4 linked regions of the Homo sapiens genome follow. The protein of the gene in region 2 interacts with the protein of the main gene of each other region in a biochemical or structural test. Each region holds a gene or a part of one and is shown on either strand. Other genes may lie near its edges.

Region 1 (3,500 bases), on a different chromosome or scaffold from region 2:
AATATATTGTAAGAAAAGTCATGTGAATGTGGGATCTCTTTCTCTCTAAATATTAATATCTTGTTGTATCACATATTCACCTAGTTTCTGATCACAGTTGACTGCAGGTAACTAAAACTGCAGATAAGGGTGAACTATTATACTTCATTTTATAGCGGAACAATACTCCATTGTATGCATATACCATACTTTGTGCATTCATCAGTTAATGGGTATTTGGGTTGTTTCCTTCTTTTATTTTATTTATTTAAATTATTTATATTTATTTATTATTTTTGAGAAGGAGTTTTGCTTTTGTTGCCCAGGCTGGAGTGTAATGGCCCGATCTCAGCTCACTGCAACCTCCACCTCCTGGGTTCAAGTGATTCTCCTGCCTCAGCCTCCCAGGTAGCTGGGATCACAGGCATGCGCCACCATGCCTGGCTAATTTTGTATTTTTAGTAGAGACGGGGTTTCTCCATGTTGGTAGTGCTGGTTTCCCAACTCCCAACCTCAGGTGATCCGGCCCGCCTTGGCCTCCCAAAGTGCTTGGGATTACAGGCGTGAGCCACTGCGCCCAGCCAAGTTGTTTCCCTCTTTTGGCTGTTATGGATAATGCTGCTATGAACACTCATTTACAAGTTTTTGTGCAGACATTATGTTTGCAATTCTCCTGGATTTATATCTAATTAGTAGAACTGCTGGGTCACATGTTAACTGTTTAACTTTTTGAGGAACTGCCAAACTGCATTCCAAAGCAGCCGTACCATTTTACATTCCCATCAGGCATGTATGAGGGTTCCACTTTCTCCACATCCTCACCAACACCTGTTATTTTCTTTTTATATACTGCCATCCTAGTGGGTGTAAAGTGGTATCTCATCATGCTTTAGAGCTGTGTTTCCCTAATGACTAATGAGGCGGATCCTATTTTTTATTTGTTTATTGGTCTTAATTAAACTTTTCATCATTGAGTATCCCTTATGTGAAATGCTTGGGAACACAAGTGTTTCAGATTTTGGATTTTTTTGGATTTTAGAATGTTTGCATAATACTTAGAGACTGAGCATCCCTAATCCAAAATCTGGTATGCTCCAATGAGTGTTTCCTTTAAGCATCACGTAGGTGCTTAAAGTTTCAGATTTTGGAGCATTGTGGATTTCAGATTTTTGGATTTGGACGCTCAACCTGTACTGTCATTGTTTTAAAGCTGGAGAATAAAAAGGGAATTGGGAAAAATTATTCACAACATTAAGAGAAAAAACGTGAACAAATTTAAGGTGTCTGAAACAGCTGATCAACAATGAACCCAATTCTATAGATATATCTGTAGTAAAATGAACATCTCCACATAATATTCAAAAGTGAAATAAGGAACCAAACCTACCCTAAATAGGTAGGACTATAGGTGTGTGCCACCACACCCAGCTAAATTTTTTATTTTTTGTAGAGATGAGGTCTCACTATACTGCCTAGGATGGTCTCAAACTCCCGGCCTCAAGGAACCAAATCCTCTGCACTATTTTAAAAAGAGCTGGAGAATATTTGGGTTTCACACCTACTAAAGAACAAGGAGTGATGTTAACAATTATTTGAAAACCTTAAGGTATTATCTTGCTTGTTTTTCTGGACCAGTAACAGCTTAAAGTGGCTAAAAAGCCAGTGTGAAGAGGAAGAACAGGTGGCAAACAGGACAGGGCCATTTAATACAACCAAGCAGAGACCACTTAACATAGGTCTTTCGGGATAAAACTACTCAACTAAATAAATTTATGTAACACTTACCTCAAGGGTCCAGAAAGACATACTTTAAAAAACATAAAGAGTAGATATGTGCAAACTAAAGTTTTTATTAAAGAACAGGACACTGAGATAGACTATGATTTACCTTCTAATATTAGACAATATGTCCATCACTGAACTAGTAAAAAACATACTATCTTAGGATTCCGACTTTTGTTAGTAAAAAAATTCATGAAATTCCATGTTTGTCAAAATACATCATTAGTTAAAATCTAATTTACATTAAGTTTAAAGTAAATAAAAATTTAGGGAAAAAATGACAGGTGACTAAATTTTGTCCGAATAGTAAATAAACAGTAATAGAAAATAAGTCAGCATTTAAAAATTTCTATCTATCTGAGATGAGACCTCATTCTTGTCACCCAGGCTGGAGTGCAGTGGCATGGTCATAGTTCATTGCAGCCTCCACTTTCTGGGCTCAAGCGATCCTCCTGCCTCAGCCTCCTAAATAGGTATGACTACAGGTGTGTGCCACCACATCCAGCTAAATTTTTTATTTTTATTTTTTTGTAGAGACAAGGTCTCACCATATTGCCTAGGATGGTCTCAAACTCCCAGTATCAAGCAATCCTCCTGCCTCAGCCTCTCAAAGCAATAGGATTACAGGCATGAGCCACTGTGCCTGGGAAAGTTTAGCATCTTTAATAATCAACTTAATCTTGTATTACCAACAAATATCTATGACCTTAAATCATTTTCATTCTGGGTACTAAATAGTGTGAATTATAGTTGTTTTCTGATTATATTTACAATGTTTTGAGAAAACAGTGACAAAATCTACATAAAGCATTTAGTAACCCACTTAAAACATAGGATTAAAGAAATGAAGTCATAAACTAGTATGTATGTGACAATTTGGCTGAAGTATGTGGGAGAAAGTAGGTTTTCAGGTGACTGTTAAATAAGGGGAATAAGAAGCCTTCCCAAATTTGTATGATGTGGTTTGGATTATGGCACACAGAGGTACAAGAGGAATTTTGTAAGCAAAATGTTATTCTGATATGGAACATAGGGGTTTACTTGGATGCAATGTATGACTATGTAAGTTGGCAGAAATAGTAAGAGGTTCCATTTACTCTGCATGTACTTTATGCTAGGCATTGTTAAACATTTCAAAGGCTTAGACATAATTAAGTTAGCCTCCATAATTACTAAGTGGAGAAACCAGAGTTCAAACCCAGACCTAAGTGACTCTACAGTCCATGTCTTTTAACCCCTATACTATAAGGTCCTTTAAGAGCCTGTATTAATTAAAAGTGACACTCATGTGCAAAAGAAGCAATGGTAAACTAAAAGAGTGGCACTCAAAGCATGGTCCACGGGCCCCTATGTGGGTCCTGAGACCTTTACAGAGAGTACACAGGGTCAAAACTATTTTCCTAATGATAATACTAATACTTTTTTTAAAAAAAAAATTGTATTAACACTTGAATTGATGCCATAGGGGTAAGACTGCTGGTGCTTTAGAATGAATTAAGGTAATGACATCAAGATGCAATAGTTGTCACTGATTTCACATCTAAAATTTGTTTAAAAGTCAGCTCACTTAAGAATTCCTTGAGGAAACAGTAAAAAATGATTACTTTTATTAAATATTGGCCTTTTCTAATTGTGTGAAAAAAATGAAGATTACATATAAGCCACTTCTGCTGCATACCAACTTCTACTTAAGGACGACTGTCTCAAGGAAAAAGTACTTGTGCAACTGAGTTGTGAAC
Region 2 (3,594 bases):
ACGCCTCCAGCTTTTTGAACCTGAGGCTTTGCTATCTCCTACAATGCTATACAGAGATATGAATCAAAGAAGAATTCTGATGAGGGAATGACATCTGCAATGGTAGCAGGATACAGGATGGACTAAAAAAGACAATAATAAGGAAACAAAGTTAAGAGATCATGATGATTCCAGAAGTGACGTACTGCAGGCCTGAATTACCTGTGTGTAAAATGTTGACTCAGAAGAGGTCAGAGGCCTCAGGGATATCACTGGCTCTGCTGCCATTCCACCATGTAGTCCCAGACAAGCCAATTTGCTTCTCTAGGCCTCTCGTTCGCTGTGGAAAATCCTCAAAGATACTTGTTTCTACCTAGTTCTCTACTTTTAATTAAATCTCAGGAGTTATTGAATAAACAACTACTAAACATCATAAATAGATATGGCTTTCTATACCGTTATATTGGCTCCAGTCAGGCTGTTGATGCGATGCATATGTTTACAAAATTCTGGACCATGCCCTTCTCGGTCTTTGTCGTTATTAGTGACAAATAAATAGGCATGTATCATTTCATGCAGGAGGGTCTGGAACATAAAATATTCAAATTAGTTTTAGAGTCTGTATGACACTTTGGAAAATATAAATTTTCTTATTCTATCTGGTGTCTAACCTTTTCTGTATCACAGGCTTCCTTCAGAACTGATAAAACTCATTCTAGGCCGGGTGCAGTGGCTCACACCTGTAATCCCAACACTTTGGGAGGCAAAGGTGGGAGGGTCACTTGAGCCCAGGGGTTGGAGACCAACCTGGGCAACATGGCGAAACCCTGTCTCTACAAAAAAATACAAAAATTAGCCAGGTGTGGTGGTGCATGCCTGTAATCCCAGCTACACTCAGGAGGCTGAGGTGGGAGGATCCTCTGAGCCTGGGGAGGTTGACGCTGCAGTGAGCTGTGATTGTGCCACTGCACTCCAGCCTGGGGGACAGAATGAGACACTGTCTCACAAAAACAAAACAACAACAACAAAAAACCCACCTCATTCTATAAAAATTATATAAGCACTCATTCACAAAATATTGCATATGAGTTGAGCATCCCAACTCTGAAAATCCAAAATGCTCCAAAATCAGAAACTCTTGAGCAATGACATGACACTCAAAAGGAAATGCTCATTGGAGCATTGCGGATTTTCAGATTTGGGATGCTCCACCTGTAAGAATAACACAAATATTCCAAAATCCAAATAAATCTGAAATCCAAGACACTTCTAGTCCCAGGCATTTCAGAGAAGGGGTACTCAAATTTGTGTAACATCTAAAGCTCTGAAAATCACAGGTTAAGAACTCCCTGTTCTAGGAAGACCTTTTTGACTATATATCAAAATCCAGAAAAATCAATGAATTCAACTACATAAAAACTTTAAAATTCTTTTTTTTTTGAGACAGGGTCTTACTCTGTTGCCCAGGCTGGAGTGCAGTGGCTCAATCTCTCCTCACTGCAAGCTCTGCCTCCTCGGTCCAAGTGATTCTCGTGCCTCAGCCTCCTGAGTAGCTGGCACTACAGGTGTGCACCACCATGCCTGGCTAATTTTTGTATTTTAGTAGAGATGGGGTTTGGCCATATTGGCAAGGATGGTCTTAAACTCCTGACCTCAAGCAATCTGCCCGCCTCAGCCTCCCAAAGTGCTGGGATTATAGGCGTCAGCCACTGCACCCAGACAAAACTTTAAAATTCTATAGGAAAAAAACACCAAGTAAAAAGACAAACTCAGAAAAATATATGTATAACTCTTATCACAGGCTATTCCTAATATACAAGGAGCTCCTAATGTCAACAGGGAATGACAACCCAATTTCAAAATGGGCAAAGACCATGGAGTTCACAGAAGAAGTATAAATGACCCACAAACAAATGAAAAAACGCCCAACTTCCGGATCACGAGGTCAGGACATTGAGACCATCCTGCTCAACATGGTGAAACCCTGTCTCTACTAAAATACAAAAAAAAAAAAAAAAAATTTTGGCTGGGCATAGTTGCGCCCGCCTGTAGTCCGAGCAGTATACTCAGGAGGCTGAGGCAGGGGAATTGCTTGAACCTGGGAGGCAGAGGTTGCAGTGAGCCGAGAATGCACCACTGCACTCCAGCCTGATGACAGACCAAGACTCCATCTCAAAAAAAAAAAAAAAAAAAAAAAAGAAAAGAAAAGAAAAAATGCCCAACTTTATTTATAAAAAGAGAAATGCGAATTAATACTACACTAGGATGGTCAGGCGTGGTGGCTCATGTCTGTAATCCCAGCACTTTGGGAGGCTGAGGTGGGAGGATTGCTCGAGGCCAGGAGTTCAAAACCAGCCTGGTCAACATAGTGAGACCTTGTCTCTACAAAAAAATAAAAATAAAAATAAAACAATTAGCTTGTGCATCTGTAGTCCTAGCTACTCAGGAGGCGGAGATGGGAGGATCACTTGAGGCCATGAATTCAAGGTTGCAGTGAGCTATGATTACCTCCAGCCTGGACAACCCAGCAAGACCCTGTCTCAAAAAACAAAAAACCCCCACAAAAACCCAACACTACACTAGGATGTTATTTATTGCTTATCAAGATTGGTAAAACTCCTAAAGTTTGACACCATTAGTAAAGCTAAGGGAAAATAAACATTCCTATATACTGCTGGTGGGAGTGCAATTCTCCTATGGAAAATTTGGTAGCATCTAACAAAATTACAAATGCATTTGTCTTCTGAGAGAGCAATACCTAGACTAGCATGCAAGGTCATATGCACAAGGTGTATTCACTGTGACACTGCTTATAACAGCAAAAGATTAGAAATAACTCCAGTGTTTTATACATCCATATAATGGAATTCTATGCAGCCACAAAAAAGAATGAGAAGGATCTACATGAAATGGTTTGGAGAAAGCTATAGAGCGTATTAATGAAAAAGACAGGGGGCTGGGCACAGTGGCTCATGCCTGTAATCCCCGCACTTTGGGAGGCCGAGGCAGGTGGATCACCTGAGGTCAGGAGTTCAAGACCAGCCTGGCCCACATGGTAAAACCCCGTCTCTACTAAACACACAAAAATTAGCCAGGCATGGTGGCGGGCGCCTGTAATCCCAGCTACTCGGGAGGCTGAGGCAGAGGCAGGAGAATCACCTGAACCTGGGAGGCAGAGGTTGCAGTGAGCCGAGATCATGCCATTGCACTCCAGCCTGGGCAACAAAAAAAAAAGAAAGAAACAAAGAAAGAAAGAAAGAAAAGAAAAGAAAAGAAAAAGAAAAAGACAAAGTACAGAAGAATGTACATAGTATTTTGTGTAAGAAAAATTTTGTATGGTGGGGAGGAGGAATAAAAATGAATAGAAATATTTGCAAAACAGAAAAATGAAAAGAAACTAACAGCTCCTACAGCAAGTAAGGAGTTCAAGATAGAGGAGGACACTGAACAAGACATCTTTGTGTATAGCTTTCTACAGCTTTTGGGTTTTGATTCAGAAATCATGAAAACTTGAAACAAACACTAAAACCTACTGCTCATTCCACACCAAAGATGCACAAGTTTCTGTGCAAAATTAACAAAAGCATTTAAGATTGCTGGGGTTTTTGCTCTAAA
Region 3 (3,594 bases), on a different chromosome or scaffold from region 2:
GGATGCAGACTCACCATGGCTGATGGGTTTGTCTGCCTCTCTCGTTCTCGCCTAATCTCACTCTCGATGGATTCACGGATGGCCAGCTTGCAAGCACGCTGGCAAATCTCTGTCAGGTCAGCTCCAGAGAAGCCATTAGTCATTTTAGCCAGGAACTCCAAGTCCACATCCTAAAAGCAGCAGCAGAGGTACCTTAGCATTTAGCCTCTCCTCTCGAGATACGCAGATCTTTGGGCTACCCGAGCACTCCCAACTACAGTTTGCCCCTTCTTTGGCCACCCCATTTTATTCCTGATTCTAGATTATCTTGATATCCTCAAAAATTCTACCTTCCCTTTAGACCAACCCTAACCCCAGTGGAATCTTGTCCAGAAACTAAAGAGCACTCCGTACCAGCCTGAGGACTCATGCAAGTCTCCCACAGCCCATGATCTTGCACCTGCCTTGGCAACTGGGGACTTGCGCAGGTTAGCCTTGAGGATGGCAACACGGGACTTCTCATCAGGAAGTGGGATGTAGATGAGCTGATCAAGACGGCCAGGTCTGAGGATGGCAGGATCAATGATGTCAGGCCGGTTGGTAGCGCCAATGATGAACACATTTTTTTTTGTGGACATGCCATCCATTTCTGTCAGGATCTGGTTGATGACTCGGTCAGCAGCCCCACCACCATCTCCAATGTTACCTCCACGAGCCTTGGCAATCGAATCCAGCTCATCAAAGAATAGCACACAGGGGGCAGCTTGGCGGGCCTGTAGGAGGAATGGATTGATTCAAGCACTAACAAAACTAGATGTCTCTAGGCAAACGTGGTGGCTCACACCTGTATTCCCAGCACTTTGGGAGGCCAAGGTGGGAGGATCACTTGAGGCCAGAAATCCGAAACCAGCATGGGCAACATACTGAGACTTTGTCTCTACAAAAAATAAAAAATTAGCCAGATGTGGTGACGCATGCCTATAGTCCCAGCTACTCAGGAGGCTGAAGTAGGAGAATTGCTTAAGCCCAGGTTTCAAGGTTACAGTGAGCCATGACTGTACCACTGCCCTCCAACCTGGGCAACAGAGCCAGACCCTGTCTCAAGAGAGAGAGAGAGAAAAAAAAAATAACACTAGGTCTCTCAGACCTCAGAAAGAAAATCAAGTGACTTACTGTGCAGTTGAGCAGCCAGCACTAAGAATATTTCAACCCTCTTAAAGAAAAACAGCCTCTATTCCTTGCCCTCAGGCAAATCAATACATAGTTCAGCCTATTGTAGCTCACCTTGTCAAAGATTTCTCTGACATTGGCCTCAGACTCCCCAAACCACATGGTGAGCAGCTCAGGACCCTTGATGGAGATGAAGTTGGCCTGGCATTCATTAGCAATGGCTTTGGCCAACAAAGTTTTCCCACAGCCAGGAGGTCCATAGAACAGAACTCCCTTGGAAGGTGTCATGCCAAACTTCAGGAATTTGTCTGGGTGCTCCACAGGATACTAGGAGGAAAAGGAAAGAGGGTTCAAGGCTACCTCCACATTTTGAAAGAAACCTAACTAAACAGAAGCATCCCCTCCATTATTTCATGGTGTACCCAATGGTATCAGATCCAGGTTCTCTAGAAGAAGACTCCTTAGTGCCTCAAACCTAAGAACAGTAGGTTCCTAAGTCGTGCTCTCACAACTCTTGCAGCAAATGTGTTGACACCCTGAGATCACCCAGATCAATTACAATGTACTGAGACAGTGACTCACCCTGGACCAAGTTGCCCTACCTGGACCAGCTCCTGTAGCTCACGTTTGACATCCTCTAGGCCCCCGATGTCTTCCCAGGTTACCTGTGGCACCTCTACCACGGTTTCCCGCAGTGCTGATGGGTTACTCTGGCTCAAGGCCCACTAGAAAAGGAGGGAAAACTGGGGATGAGACTTATCAAGGGAGGGGTCAAAGCACGTATGTGTGTACCTGAGGCACGGGTGTGGTCCTTACCCGGAAGTCATCCATAGTAACTGCTAGAGAGTTCATGACCTCGGCATCAATGGTCTCATCCTCTAGGTCAATGAGATCCATCTTCTTGCGGATGGCTTGCAGAGCAGCCTCTGAGCACAGGGCTGCTAAGTCAGCACCCACATGCCCGTGAGTCTCATTGGCTACCTGCAGAGAAAGATCTACTTACTATGCTGCCTCAAAGACCCAGCTGCTGCAGGAGGCTCAGAGACAATAGAATCCTTCCCCTGACTGCTATCCCTGGGTCCTCTCATTTCCTTGAATATATACTATCAATACCTTTATGGGCTGGGTTTTAAGTACTTAATTCTGGACTTGGGACCTAGAAATAAGGCTGCTCCAACAATTCTGATTTACTCTAAATGCAGCGTCAACTATGAAAAATGCCAACTCCCATTTCCTGGATTCAATCTCAGATTACTTCCTTTCCCCTGTCCAGAAATCAAAACCCATCTCCTCACATCTTAACCTTATGTCTCTAGCCAGTTCCCAGCAACTGCCTAGAGACACTGTAACGCCTGGTCAGCCATCATCATCACTTCACCTGTTCCAGGTCCACATCATCTGCCAGCTTCATGTTCTTGGTATGGATCTGAAGAATCTCTAAGCGTCCTGTAGCATCAGGAATTCCAATATCTACCTCCCTGTCAAAGCGACCTGTGGGACAGTACACAAACATAAACAGGGCTCATCTCTAGTCCAGAGGTAAGAGACAGGCCTAGGGTGACCAACCATCTCAGCCAGCACAGGATTGTCCTAATGCCAGCACTAAAAAAGTCTCAAGCTCTGGGAAACCTTTCAGTCTCAGGAAAACCAGGGTGGTTGGTCACTCTAGACAGGACGTAGGGTAAAGGAAAAAGACCCCTGGACCCAATCACTGTGAAGGGCTTCAAGAGGATTAGGTGACTTAGATGAAGGAGAGAAGTAGGACCTAAGCAAGGACGGGGTCAAAAGTATCTGGAGTCCTTACCAAATCGCCGTAGAGCTGGGTCAATGCTGTTGGGTCTGTTGGTTGCTGCCATAACAATCACATGTGCCCTCTGCTTTAGGCCATCCATGAGGGTCAACAACTGTGATACAATGCGCCGCTCCACCTCGCCATGAGTCTGCCAGAACAGGATGTCTGGTCAGAAGTGAAGTCAGGGCCTTTCAACCCCCCTCTATCCCCTCAGGTAAGCTCCTACTTTCTCTCTTTTGGGAGCGATGGCATCTAGCTCATCAATGAAGATGATGGCAGGAGCATTCTTCTCAGCCTCCTCAAAGGCTTTACGAAGGTTGCTCTCAGACTCACCAGCCAATTTGCTCATGATCTCAGGACCTGAAAGGATACAGAATGGAGACAATAACAAAATGATAGTCTTTCCCAATTCCTCCCAAAAATCAGTTATCTTGCTTGTTTGGCCCAGAGACAGGTCCTGGGTGAGAAGGTGGTAACCTCTGCCTACTTCTCACATCCTCTACCAGCCATTATCCCAGGACAGCCACCAGGCAAGGCTGGAGAGAAGCCCAGGGACTCACTATACTCTTCTCACAGTTGAACTGTAAAGGTGACAGCAAATGCTCTAGGACCTCTGGCTAGAGCAAGAGAGATGGCACACCAGATGGCACACC
Region 4 (3,004 bases), on a different chromosome or scaffold from region 2:
AGGAGTATTTTTATGTCCCCAAACCACAAATTTGCCCACATGGATGCATCCGTCCCACGTGCTCCATTTCCACATTGCCTGTAGGGCAGCTCATGTCTGCAGATTGAGTAGCAGTCCTGGGTCCAGACAAGCCAAGCACCCACTCCAGGGACCGACTCGGGTAGCACATGAGGTATACTGACCTCCTGACAAGCCCTGAGCAATTCTGTGACCTCTGTACCTCAGTATCCCCATCCGAAACTGGAGATGACAACTCTTGCATGAGATTGTTGTGAGGATTACGTATCAATATTTGGAAAATATTTTGGAAAAAACTGGGCATGCCATTGGTGCTTGGAATCGTGCCTGGCACACAGAGGGTGCTTTCAAAGCACTTAGAACAGCAGTACCCAGCCCACAGCTGGTGCTCACTAACCACTCAGAGCTGCACCCATCACACATCTGGCCTTTGATAAGAACACAGAACACAGGCACAAAACTGGTGCTTAGTTAAGTCCATGGAGGAAAAAACCACACTGCTGAGTGGGGAGCAGACTGGTGCTTTATATATACACACACACAGCAGAAGGTACAGGGCCTCAATAAGAAAATACACTCTGTGTTCAGGTGAACCCCCATCACCACCCACGCAGAACACTCTGGGCTGAGGAGAGGGAAGGGCACGACCATAAATAAAGACTAGAAGGGAGGGTCACTGCTGGAAGGGCAAACACAGGCGGGGCGCGCACTGCTAGGAGGAGACACGACCTGTTCTTTCCCGGGAGAGAGCGATGCAGCGGCACAGGAGAACAGTAGCCACGACTAAGCCTGCAATGCCTGGCGGGGGCACCTAACACGAATAAGAGAAGCGGGGCGGACACGAGAAGCGAGATTGCAGAGAGGGCTTTTTTTTTTTTTTTTCTGTGGCAGGACCCAGGGCTCTCAATTAACATCCATGAACTCAGAGCTGGGTGGGGAGCTGCAGGCAGGGGAGGCTGGGGCGCCAGATGAGCCGGCCGGGGACAGCAGGCGTCGCGCCACGTCCTGGCGTTGGTAGAAGAGGACATAGGCTGCCTTGGACTGTGGGGAGAGGACAGGAGTCAGTGTGGATTGTGGGGGTGGGGAGGTGGAATCAGAAAGGAAGAAGGGGAGGAGGTAGGATGGAAGTCACACCTCGATCTGATTCTCATTGACAGGGGAGACGCTGTTGTCATCAAAGTAGTGCCACTGGCCGCTGTCCTTGTTGCAGGCAAATGTTGTGTCTGAAAGGGAAGGAGAGTTATCCTCGCCTACCCTTCCTGCCTCTCAGAAGTGTCCAGATTCACTCTTGTCACTCCTCCCACCACGATAACCTCACCACTGGCTCACATCCCTAGTCACTCACTGGGAAGGTCCTGATCGCCCCCCTGCCCAGAACCCCCAGGGCAGGCCCCACCCACAGCCTGGCACATACAGTGTCCATCACGCATGCCCCCATAATGGTTGGAAACCGCGATGAGGTCATATTTGTACAGCTCCGGATTCGACTCATTCTGTGGCTGGATGACAAACTCAGAGAAGTCCAGGTCCCTGTGGGTGGGGAGAGGGTTAATACTGGTACACCCCCTCCTTTCCCTGCCTTCCCCCAGCCATCCTCTCCCTGGCCCCTGACCGGATAGGAAACTCCACGAGGGTGTCCAGCTTCTCTCGGGAGAACTTGGTGTAGGAAAAGCGTTTCAGGTGGATGATGAGAATCTCCGGCAGCATCCACAGGTCCAGCTTCTTGGTTGCCAGCTGGTGCTGCTTGCAGGAAGGGCAGTACCTACAGACAGAGCCCGAGTCAGCAAACGGACTTTTTCTTTTTTTTTTTTTTGAGACAGAGAATCGCTCTGTTGCCCAGGCTGGAGTACAGTGGCGCGATCTCGGATCACTGCAGCCTCCACCTCCTGGGTTCAAGCGATTCTCCTGCCTCAGCCTCCCGAGTAGCTGGAATTACAGGCATGCACCACCATGCCCTGCTAATTTGTGTATTTTTAATAGAGACAGGGTTTCACCATGTTGGCCAGGCTGGCCTTGAATTCCTGACCTCAGGTGATCCACCCGTGTCGGCCTCCCAAGGTACTCGGATGACAGGCATGAGCCACAATGCCCAGCCAAAACAGACTTTTTCTGAGCACCTACTGTGCGCCCTTTGTACTGCCTCTCACGTGCCATGTCTGGCTCACAGAAACACTGCTCTTACTATTAGCCCATCTAGTATTCTAGTTTGCTCTGTTCCTGTTAAAATCCTTTCACTCACTCGTCAAGTGCTTACTATCTTTTGTATATGTGCTCATACTATTTTTTGTATTTTTGTTTGATTTCTGTTCCATGAGATGCTAGTCTTATTTTAGAGCCCACCTCTATCCTTCTAGTTTCCTCTCTTCGTATTTTAGTCATTCATTCACTCCCCAGTATTTATTGATTGCTTGTTTAACCCTTTGGAACTATTTTGTATTTCTGTTCCATTTCTGCTCCACGGACATGCTGCTCTTATTTCTGAGACTAGGGAGTGTGGTTTTGGTTCTCTTTTTGTTTATTCTGCAAGTGTCTACTGAGCATCAACCGAACACTCAACACTATTATAAACAGGTAGAAGCAACACACAGTGAACTTAAGTCTTCACCCTCGAGGAGTTGACTCTAACGAAGATGACAAATAACACAAAAGTGGATACAGGACATCACATCAAGTGGCATCGCTGAGCTAGAAAGTAATGCTTGGCTAGGAAGAAAAGAGCAGAGAGGGGATGGAGAGGGATGGTGGGGAAGGGTGATTTTTAACAGGGTAGTCAGAGGAGGTCTCTCTGATGAGGTCACATTTGATCGGAGACCTGAGCATCGTAAGGAGTGAAGTCCTGTAGATCACTGGGAACAACATTCCTGGAGAAGGAACAGCACAGGCCAAGGCTCTGGGGTAGGAGTCTGCTCAGGAGATTGGTGGCCAGGTTGGCAAGAAGGGTTTGAGTGTGGAGGAGGGAGGAGGAAGGTATACTTAAAGAGCTAAA

Evidence for each region.
Region 1: the proteins of SPRTN (region 2) and KPNA4 interact in a test that uses a peptide from one of them, tested with the Homo sapiens proteins (one study listed by BioGRID).
Region 3: the proteins of SPRTN (region 2) and VCP form a complex in vitro, tested with the Homo sapiens proteins (2 studies listed by BioGRID).
Region 4: of the proteins of SPRTN (region 2) and USP11, one has a biochemical effect on the other in vitro, tested with the Homo sapiens proteins (one study listed by BioGRID).

The regions. Positions count from the first base shown.
Region 1 is NC_000003.12:160,555,572-160,559,071, forward strand, and holds part of KPNA4 (importin subunit alpha-3), read right to left. Parts: intron 1-3,500. UniProt on the Homo sapiens protein: Functions in nuclear protein import as an adapter protein for nuclear receptor KPNB1. Binds specifically and directly to substrates containing either a simple or bipartite NLS motif.
Region 2 is NC_000001.11:231,344,767-231,348,360, reverse strand, and holds part of SPRTN (DNA-dependent metalloprotease SPRTN), read right to left. Parts: intron 565-3,594; coding exon 436-564; intron 1-435. UniProt on the Homo sapiens protein: DNA-dependent metalloendopeptidase that mediates the proteolytic cleavage of covalent DNA-protein cross-links (DPCs) during DNA synthesis, thereby playing a key role in maintaining genomic integrity.
Region 3 is NC_000009.12:35,059,050-35,062,643, forward strand, and holds part of VCP (transitional endoplasmic reticulum ATPase), read right to left. Parts: intron 3,302-3,594; coding exon 3,168-3,301; intron 3,090-3,167; coding exon 2,954-3,089; intron 2,641-2,953; coding exon 2,528-2,640; intron 2,131-2,527; coding exon 1,966-2,130; intron 1,875-1,965; coding exon 1,752-1,874; intron 1,477-1,751; coding exon 1,264-1,476; intron 753-1,263; coding exon 444-752; intron 171-443; coding exon 15-170; intron 1-14. UniProt on the Homo sapiens protein: Necessary for the fragmentation of Golgi stacks during mitosis and for their reassembly after mitosis. Involved in the formation of the transitional endoplasmic reticulum (tER).
Region 4 is NC_000023.11:47,245,848-47,248,851, reverse strand, and holds the end of USP11 (ubiquitin carboxyl-terminal hydrolase 11), read right to left. Parts: intron 1,781-3,004; coding exon 1,631-1,780; intron 1,549-1,630; coding exon 1,433-1,548; intron 1,242-1,432; coding exon 1,153-1,241; intron 1,060-1,152; coding exon 922-1,059; 3' UTR 524-921; downstream 1-523.